2 linked regions of the Homo sapiens genome follow. The protein of the gene in region 1 purifies or fractionates together with the protein of each later gene. This does not show direct contact. Each region holds a gene or a part of one and is shown on either strand. Other genes may lie near its edges.

Region 1 (5,536 bases):
TTGATACTTTCCTATGATCTGGAGAGAAAGAGATGGGGGTGGGTTGGGCTTTCTGGTAGCTCTGTGTCTCCCTAGAAGTCTGGAAGTTTCCTAGATCCGAAGCTGGTAAGAGGTCAGCTATGAGGAGCTGACTCTGGGACAACTCCTCTTGCTTGTGGGGAGGGAGCAGGATGGACAACGGGGAGGGGAGGGTGTCAGCAAGGAAATGGAGCTGTGTTTCCTGGATGGCCGCGGGTGGAGATACCATCCTGCTGACCCAGCTGCAGGGTGCAGGTCTCAGACCTTGGCTTCGCCCCCACCCCTGCCATCCCCATCCGCCTTCACTTATCATGGCTGTGCATAGGATGCACAGCTAGGGAACGTCCTGCTGGGGCCGCCTGGTTCCTTGGCCTCTGGCCTCTTGTCCCCATAACCTGCATAGTGAGCTGGAAGATCAACAAGCTCACAAACGCAAAAGGAGTTTTGTGAGGTTCCTGCAGAGTTCACTGTTTCCAGCCAGAGTGATTTATGAAATGAATGTGTCTAGTTTCCTCTGCCGAGCACCTCTTTAGCCTCAGCTCCCTTCCCAATCCCAGCTGGAAGTGCAGATTTTTAAAAGATCCAGAGTCCATGGCTATCTCTTCCATTTATTTCACCTTTTTTTCTGCATTGCTCCTTAGACACAAGGACCGAGACAAATAGTACAACACTGAGGGCCTGCTCTCTATCGCTCCTGATCCTGTCTCTCTCTCCACACCTCAGTATTTTAAGATAGATTCAAAATTGACCACGAGTGCTTTGACCCTCCCCTCTACATCCCCCCAAATCTCCCACCTATACTCTCACCTGTGCCTTTTCCTTCACTGTTGGAGGAGTCTGGCCTCTACCTCAGCTGGGTGTAAGAGGCTGAGTGGGAGAGATGGGGGAAGTATTTGGAAGCAAATGGTGTGCCTGAAAGCTCAGGCTTGGCTCAGGGTGGGGGGCTGCTGCAGCAGGCTGGCTATCACCCTTGGTGATGATGATGGAATGCTGGGTGGAACAGGAGGAAGAGGAGGCGCATGTGCCCGCCTTGGTCTGGTCCTTAGGAAGGTAATGGACTACAGCATTCAGGAGCCGGCCCCGGAAGTGTGGGCTGAGAAAGTTGTAAAGGATGGGGTTGATGACACAGTGCAGCATGGAGAAGCAGTCAATGACATCATAGAAGAAGTAGAGCAGGTGGACCAGGTGGCAGTGGAGGGAGATGTGGGTCCCATGCAGTGTGAGCAGCAGCAGGGTCACATGATAGGGCAGCCAGCACATGACAAAGACGGCCACGTAGGCGCACAGCAGCAGGCAGTGGCGCCGGCTCTTGGGTTGTCCTGGCTGCCGCAGCCGGCAGGCTGTCAGCACATTGAAGACTGTGATGAGAGGGAAGGGCAGCAGGAAGCCCAGGATGGTGGTGGACAGGGCCACCGCCAGGGCCCAGGTGCTGTACGTTTCAAAAGGTGCCATGAAGAGGCACATGGGCTCAGGGCCCTCCACCAGCTGGATGTGGACCACCTCAGGCAGCGGGATGATGGCCGAGAGGACCCAGATGCCTGCACACATGGCCCGCCGCACTCGGTGCTGGTAACGCTGCCAGGAGGGGGAGGCGCTGGTGAGGGTGACATAGCGGTCGACACTGAGGCACACCAGGAAGAAGATGCTGCTATACATGTTGACAAAGTAGAAGTAGTGAGTGAAGCGGCAGGAGAAGCTGCCCCAGAGCCAGGTGTAGTCCAGCGTGACCTCCAGCATCCACACGGGCAGAGACAGGACAATGCCCAGGTCCGCGATGGCCATGTTGAGGATGTAGAGGTTCATCAGCCCTGCCCGGCCTGAGCCGCGCCAGTTGACGCATATCACCAGGAGGTTCTCCACCAGCCCAACCACAAACATGGCCAGGTAGAGGGCAAAGAGGACCACGCGCTTGGTGCTCTGGCTGAGCTCCACGTGGCACTCAGACAAAGTGTGGTTGAAGAGGTCAAGCAGCTCGGTCCAGTTGTGGATCTCTCCAAGGTCACTGGTAGGCACTGCGGTGACCCCCTCCGAGGGGCCAGGCCCCCAGCTGGGTTTCACTGACATTGGGACCAGCACACGCCTATTGGGATGAAGGGAGGGTTGGAAGGGAAAGCAGACCTCGAGAGCCTTGTGTCCTCAAGGTAGAGGCCAGAGGGAGTCGGGGGCTTTGGGGAAAGATTCTGGGGCTAAGGCAAGAAAGGGAAGTTTAGCTTTCAAACTGTGAATAAATAATACACAACTCACTTGCTAGCTCTGACCCAAGAGCAGAGATACTTTCTTAAGGGGTTTCAGCTGGAAGAGGCCAGGACTGTTGGTGTCCACCAACATTTCTCCCCACCCCCAGCCAGTTCCCCCTCAACAACCCCCTCAATCCCCCCACACCCACCATTCCTAGGTGGTCTCCAACCTCCACCTCTCTCCTGGCACTTCATTCCTCAGCCCTTTTGCACAGATCTTTATTGCTCTTTTTCTGTCTTGTTATTTGGACCGTGAGTGTGGAACACACACACACACACGCACACCACACAATCTGATTCATCCCTAGGAAAACCTGTGGATCATGCAGGATAGCCAGTTGTCTCCAAGCCCTGATTCCCATCTTCCCTGGGAGAGGGCGACACTCACCTGAGTTTCCCTTGGGAGCCCCTCGGTCCTGGAGGGAGGGCCGGCAGGTCCAGGCTATGGGGAGCTGTGAGGAGGCTGGGGGGCCCTTGGCTGTGGGGCTGGCTTCCCTGCTGGCTTCACGGCCGCCCTTCTCATCCGGGAAGTAGCTGTCACTGCTGAGGCTCTGTAGGGAGGGATGGGGTTTTTCCTGCATTCCCCCAATCCGGTTACAGGGGATGTCCCAGCAAAAGACCCGGTGTGCCAGTGGCGGGGAGGTCATACTGCCAGCATTAAAATCCCAGCTCCTCCCTCACCCGCTGAATGAATTTACCTCTTTCCTCAGCCTCAGTGCTCTCCTCTGCAAAGTGGGGTCTATTATCTACTAAAAGGGATGCTTTGAGAATTAAAGGAGCTGTTGAGGGAGGGAAAGTGCTTAGCTCAGGTGGGGCCTGTGGCAAATGCTTTACGTATGTATGTATTTTCCTCTCCCTAAGTCAGCTTGGAATCCCTCTCTCCCCTGTCTTGATTCCTACTAGAGTGAAATTGGATGTGGGGGTATAGGGGAGGGTCAAAATAAATCTGAACATCAGTTGGGCTTTTAATAACTCTGGCCCACCCCTGCCATTCTCCCCAGCCCCTCACAGGGCTGTGAGCTCCCTGCCTTCATCTTGTGATTGGAGGTGAGAATCTGGGAAAGAAAAGATTGAATGGCTGGGCATGGTGGCTCACGCCTGTAATTCCAGCATTTTGAGAGGCTGAGGCAGGAGAATCGCTTGAGCCCAGGAGGCGGAGGTTGCAGTGAGCTGAGATCAGGTCACTGCACTCCAGCCTAGGTGACAGAGTTAATAAAAAAAAATAAAAATAAGATTGAATGCGGGGTGTCAAGGGGGCTTTGTCAAAGCTTCAGGGAGATTCCTGAGTAGGGAGGGAGAGAGAGAATGGCGCCCTCCCCCTGTGGCTCTATACTTCTCTGCGTGAAGGGTGTGGTGGGTGGCTGGCAGGGGATGAGCAGGGGATGGGGCGTGGGGTAGGGAGAGCAGACTTCTCTCTCCCGCCAAGCTAGAGGGTAAGGGACTCTAAGCCACGTGTTATGGGTAAACATTTTGTGTCAGCAGAGCTTCCTGCCCTTCAGAGCGCTTTCACCTCACTTCATCTCGTTGGATTCTGGAGATACCCCTGTGGGGAGGATGGATTTCTTCACCCTCTTTGAGGCCCAGAGAAGTTGTCTGTTACACAAGCCACACTTGGCAGATGGCAGAGTGGCCTAGGCCTGAGCCAAAGGTGTGTCGGCTGGACGGGATTGAGTATATATTAAGTCGAGGTGAAATTCCCATAGCATAAAATTAACCATTTTAAAATGTGTGATTTAATGGCATTTAGACATGCACATTGTGCAAACACCACCTCTGTCTACGTGCTAAACATCTTCATTACCCGCAAAGAAAACCCCATAACCATTAAGCAGTCAATCCTATTCCCCCCACCACCAACCTTCTGCTTCCTGTCCCTGTGGATTTACCTATTCTGGATACTTAATAGAAAGGGAACCATATCATATGTGACATTCAGTGTCTGTGTTTTTTTTTTTCCACTTAGCATGTTTTCAAGGTTCATTCACTTTGGAGCATGCATCCGTACTTCATTTCCTTTCATGGCTGAGTAATATTCCCATATATATATATATATATATACACACACACACACCACATTTTCTTTATCCACTCAAAGAGAACATTTTTTAAAAGTTTGCTCACTGATTCTTTTATTATGGTAAAATATATGTAAGGTTTACCACGTTAACCATTTTTAAGTGTACAATTCAGTGGCGCTAAGTGCATTTACACTGCTGTGCAACCATCAGCACCATTTATCTCCATGGAAGGGAATATTTTTCATTTTGTAGTTTTGTAGTTTTCTTAAACCTTCCACTTACATATCAGATCACTCCAAGATCACAAAATCTATCATGGCCGGTGCAGTAGCTCACACCAGTAATCCCAGCATTTTGGGAGGCCGAAGTGGGAAGACTGCTTGAGCCCAGGAGTTTGAGACCAGCCTGGGCAACAAGATGAGACCCCCATCTCTACAAAAAATAAAATAGCCAGTTGTGGTGGTACAGTCTGTATTTGGGAGGCCGAGGTGGGAGGATCGCTTGAGACTAGGAATTCAAGGCTGCAGTGAGCCATGATCACCCTGCTGCACTGAAGCCTGGGTGATGGGATCTAGAGAGCTAGATCCCATCTCCTAAAAAAAAAAAAAAAAAAAAAAAATAATGGGCTAGGCTAGGTGGCTCATGCTTGTAATCTTGGCACTTTGGGAGGCTGAGACAGGTGTATCACCTGAGGTCAGGAATTCGAGACCAGCCTGGCCAACATGGTAAAACCTTGTCTCTACTAAAAATGCAAAAATTCCAGGCGTGGTGGTGCATGCCTGTAATCCCAGCTACACAGTAGGCTTAGGCAGGAGAATCTCTTGAACCCAGGAGGCGGAGGTTGCAGTGAGCTGAGATCACGCCACTGCACTCCAGCCTGGGCCGTGGAGTGAGACTCTGTCTCAAAAAAACAAAACAAAACAAAAACAAAAAACCATCATGATGAACCATGACAGTGTGAAATGTGGCTTACTTCGATTTTTCAGTTAGTTTTGCTCTTATTCTCTCCCTTTAGGGTCTTAGTTTCTATCCCATTGATATTTTTCTTCAGTAAGGAGCCTTCTGAGAATTTCCCCTTCCCACTACATGCTTTTGACCCATGCAAATGAAGCCTGTCCTAGATCAAGCACCCTCCAAGGAAGGCCCTGGTCTGGTCTTTGTCCTCTCCAGATGGCCACATCTGTGACCACTTCCGTTCCTCACAAGACTGCCCTTTAGTGGCTCCTGTCTCCTGGGTCTCTGAATTGTCCTTCCCATATGGAG
Region 2 (3,822 bases), on another chromosome or scaffold:
GCCCTGGGCCAAGAGGCACTGAGGCTGGGGGCCAGAGACAGGGGCCTGAGGAAGGCTGTAGAGGGTGGGGCGGAACTCCTCCTCCGAACGCCTCCTGCAGTGTGCTGGACTCTAGGGAAAATGGCCAGTGAGCCTGCCTCCCCCAGCCACCTAGGGGACTCCTGGGAGGGAAAGGTCCCAGACCTCAGGCCTGTGGGCGGGCGGGAATGTGTTTTAAGAGAGGGGGTCAGTCCCGACTGCCTTTCCTCCAGGAGCTCTGGCTGCTTCTCTGAGCCCTGCCACATCTCTGGGCTGTAGGGGAGTTCTCTGTCCCCACCTCTGACCTAGGCTGGAGGGAGGGCCCTTCTGCCCTGCTGCTCTTGGTACACATGGAGCAGCAGTGGGCACAGGCCTCTGTCTTCCTTCTCTCTTTTCCTGTTTCAGAAGCCATCAGGGTCATAAAAGCCAAGGTGTGGAGGGACCCCAGGCTTCCGGGAGAGTGCTGGTTCGGCTGGGAACACGGGCTGTGGGGAAAAAGCAGGAGCCAGGACTAGGGGGCTCAGGGACACAGCTCCCGGAGGCGTGGAGACAGGTCTCTGTCCCAGAGGACTTCAAGCTCACCCAGCCCAGAGGCAAGCTAACACTGGTTTATCTGTCCAATGACACGCCAGTCTGGTGGAACCAGGCAGGGCTAGCAGCAGGCTCAGGCAGAGGTGTCGAAAAGGCGATCGATCATGTCGCCCACCTGCTCCACCCCGTACTTGATGTACTTCTCCGGGTTCTTGGTGAAGGGCACGCTGCCAAACCTGAGGAGGCACTGTGGTCAGGGGACAGGGAGGGCCGACCCCTCCCCAGCTCCACCCTCAGCCTAAGGCACTCCTGATAGTCTTGGAAGGGGTGGCCCTGAGCGATTCCCTGTCTGGCCCCGCCCCAAAGCCCAGGTCGCTGGATCTGCTGCCTAAATCCACCACCCTTCTCCTTTTTCCCTTGAGGAAGAGGAGCTTGAAGAGGCCCACTGGGGCTGTGGGCAGCACAGGCTGGGAGGGGAATGGAGGCCTCACTTCTGTAGAAAGGCCCCGTAGGTCTCCTTGACAATGGTCTTCTGGGCCTGGCGAATCCTGTCCCTCTGCTCTGTGTCTGGAATAGCCCAGGCCTTCTGGATTTTGCACAGTTCTTCGAGGCCATCATTGAAGCCCTGGCCACCAAAAAGGTGAAAAAGGAAGGCACCCAGAGACAAACATTTTGGGTCTGTGTTGCCTCAACAGCAGCAGCAAGCAGTGGAGGGGAGAGGACCCCGACTCACCTTAAAACGCTCCTTGATAATCTGCCGCTCCTTGTCCCGGAGCTGGGAAGCCAGGAGAGATAGCAGAGAAAGCTCACTTCAGAGCAGAGCAGCCTTCCCCCACTCTTCCCCAAACACCCTTGGTCTGGGCCTGTCTCCTGTGTCCTGATGGCCACATGCATCCTTTGCTCTCTGATCCCAGAGGGATGCTTGTCCACTTTTTCCCAGAGACACGACAAAAAGTATCCCGTCTGCCAGACACCCCTTCCCAGCCCAGGTCTTGAGCCCACCTTGACTCCCGGCTGGAACACAGGTAGATTCTTCTCTGCGATGTAATCAGTCACCTTTAACCAGCTGCCAGACAGAAAGAGAAGCATGAGGGCAGAGGGTGGCCTGCCTCAGTGGCCTGGCTTGTTTCGTTTGCTAAATCTCTGGATCTACTTGGTGGGTGGTGGTAGGAAGGGATGTGGGTCACAACTAAGCAAACAACAGGTTTTCTTCCTGGGAAGAGAAAATCTTTAAACTGGTCACTTTTTGAGATAACATTAGGAAACACTTGAGTGTTCAATAAATTGGACAAATACTGTCAACTATACTTCACATCAATATCGTGGCAAACTAAGATGGAGAAACAGATGAGAAAGAAAGGAGTGGAGGGCAGATAAATGAGAAGGAAGAGGTAGACACATTCAAAGGGAAGAAACAAAGCCAGGAAGAAAGAGGACCAGAGAAGCAGCGGGATCCTCACAGAGCAAGGCTCAGCCACGTTCAAGTGCTCTCGCGACCTTGCTCTTCTCCTAGGTAAACATTACCCACGTCTCTGAGAGCCAGCTCTTCAATCATTCTTAGCCTTGACACTTGGCAGACTCCCCTCTAAAGTGGCCATAGTGGGCCCCTAGGAGCAGGTAGTGGTAGAGGAGGGGGCTTCTCTCTCCACCCCGTGAGTTTGATTAGAAACCAAGTGGAGGATTAGGGTCCAGAGGACAGGAGTTCCCCGTGACCGACTCTGTGTCCTGAGGTGCTGAGAAGGAAGAGTGCGTGGTGGCACAGGGGCCCATGCAGGAGCAGGGCGGGCCCAGCCTCTCACCTGCGCTGGTAGGTCTGGATCTGCTGCTCAATGTGCTCCCGGTAGGAGCGCTCAGCAGTCTTCTGTGTCACTGCCACCAGCTGGATCAGTTCAGACCTGGGTCGGGGTAGGGGACAGAGGAGAGGAGGACAGGATTGGCTCCTCAGGCCCAAAGGCTGCGGCAATGCCGGGAGGGCCTCCCATTGCACCCCAAACTCCACAAGCTCTATGGCATCCCACCTTCCGGGTCCTGGGGTGGAGGAGACTGAAGCACCCCCTCCCCTCTCGTCCACAAGAGAAGGAGCCCAGGGGGGCAGGGGCTGGCACAGCTGCACAGCCGAGGGGAAGGTGAGAGCCGCAGACTCACTCCCGCAGGCCACTTACTTCTCCAGGGACTTGAGGATGTAATTGTAGTTGTTGTGCAGGAAGATGGCGCTCAGAGCTGGGTCCTCGTACACCTTGGACTTGCTCAGCAAGTTCAACTGCAGGTTGCCCAGCACTTTACCTGCACAGGGAAAAATGGGGCCACACCCACCATGGCAGTCTGACCCAAACGACCCCACCCCAGGACCCGCGAACGCGCTCCTATCCATCGCTCCTCGTCCTGCCTCAGGAGGCCTTAGCCCAACTCCCCTCAGCCTCTGAACTAGAGGTCAGGTTGTGGTTCCAAAGATCAGATGGCACTTAGGAGAGGGCCCTGGGAATAGCCAGAGAGCACAGACAGAAGGAAGGGAAAGGCAGGGCATGCAGGCAGCAGGGCTGCTGGTCTGCCCGGGAGAACACTCACAGATATAGGTGCTTAGCAGCCGCTTGCTGAACTCAGAGCTGTAGCTGGTGGCCGAAGAGCTGGTCTCTGTGAGAGGAGAAGTCCTGTTATTGCAGTGGCAGCAGCCAAGACCCTCAACGGCCCTTCCCCCAGGCCATGCAGCAGTCTGAGGGGACACTGAGACAGGCCCTGGGCTTCCTTGGGCAGAGCTGGCTGCCTGCTAAGCCACAGGGTGGCCCCTGCCGCAGGAAGCACCAGCCCTGGAGTTTTTGGAACCCAGAGCTGCCCTCTATGATGGGATGGAGCTGGCCCATGTCAGCAGAAAAGCTGGCAGGAAAAGAGTGAGATGCCAGCGCCCTGTCCCCTCCTGCCCCCACCCACCCTGGGTGGTTTCTACAAGGCCCCCTTTTTCCTTTTGTCAACAGCAGAGTCTTAGAATGGGCTCCCCACAGCCTCTCCACCTTCTCCCCTACATTCGAACATCCCCTCTACCAGACCCTACTGAACAGACGAAGCTGCGGCCTGCACAGTGGGGAAGGCCGAGTGGGGACAGCAAGGCAGGGAGGCCGGGCGAGCCTAGGGGGTGTATCCAGGGCTCTAGCCTGGGCAGGTGCTGCGGATAAGCTCAGAGACAGAGTGGCCTTGAAGGGAGCAGAGAGAGTTGAGAGCACCCCGAGAAAACTCATGTCCCCTCTGACTCAGGCTCCCCAGTAGGTACTGAGAGTCAGT

The links. Proteins that work in one complex are often made in the same cells at the same time.
Region 2: the proteins of ACKR5 (region 1) and EXOC7 purify together in Homo sapiens (co-immunoprecipitation; 2 studies listed by BioGRID and IntAct, with this or other methods). This does not show direct contact.

What each region holds. Positions count from the first base shown.
Region 1 is NC_000012.12:56,991,756-56,997,291, reverse strand, and holds the start of ACKR5 (G-protein coupled receptor 182), read right to left. Parts: upstream 2,801-5,536; 5' UTR 2,644-2,800; intron 2,099-2,643; 5' UTR 2,083-2,098; coding exon 868-2,082; 3' UTR 1-867. UniProt on the Homo sapiens protein: Orphan receptor.
Region 2 is NC_000017.11:76,082,966-76,086,787, forward strand, and holds part of EXOC7 (exocyst complex component 7), read right to left. Parts: intron 3,181-3,822; coding exon 3,115-3,180; intron 2,833-3,114; coding exon 2,712-2,832; intron 2,445-2,711; coding exon 2,349-2,444; intron 1,616-2,348; coding exon 1,552-1,615; intron 1,325-1,551; coding exon 1,283-1,324; intron 1,175-1,282; coding exon 1,041-1,174; intron 786-1,040; coding exon 683-785; 3' UTR 1-682. UniProt on the Homo sapiens protein: Component of the exocyst complex involved in the docking of exocytic vesicles with fusion sites on the plasma membrane.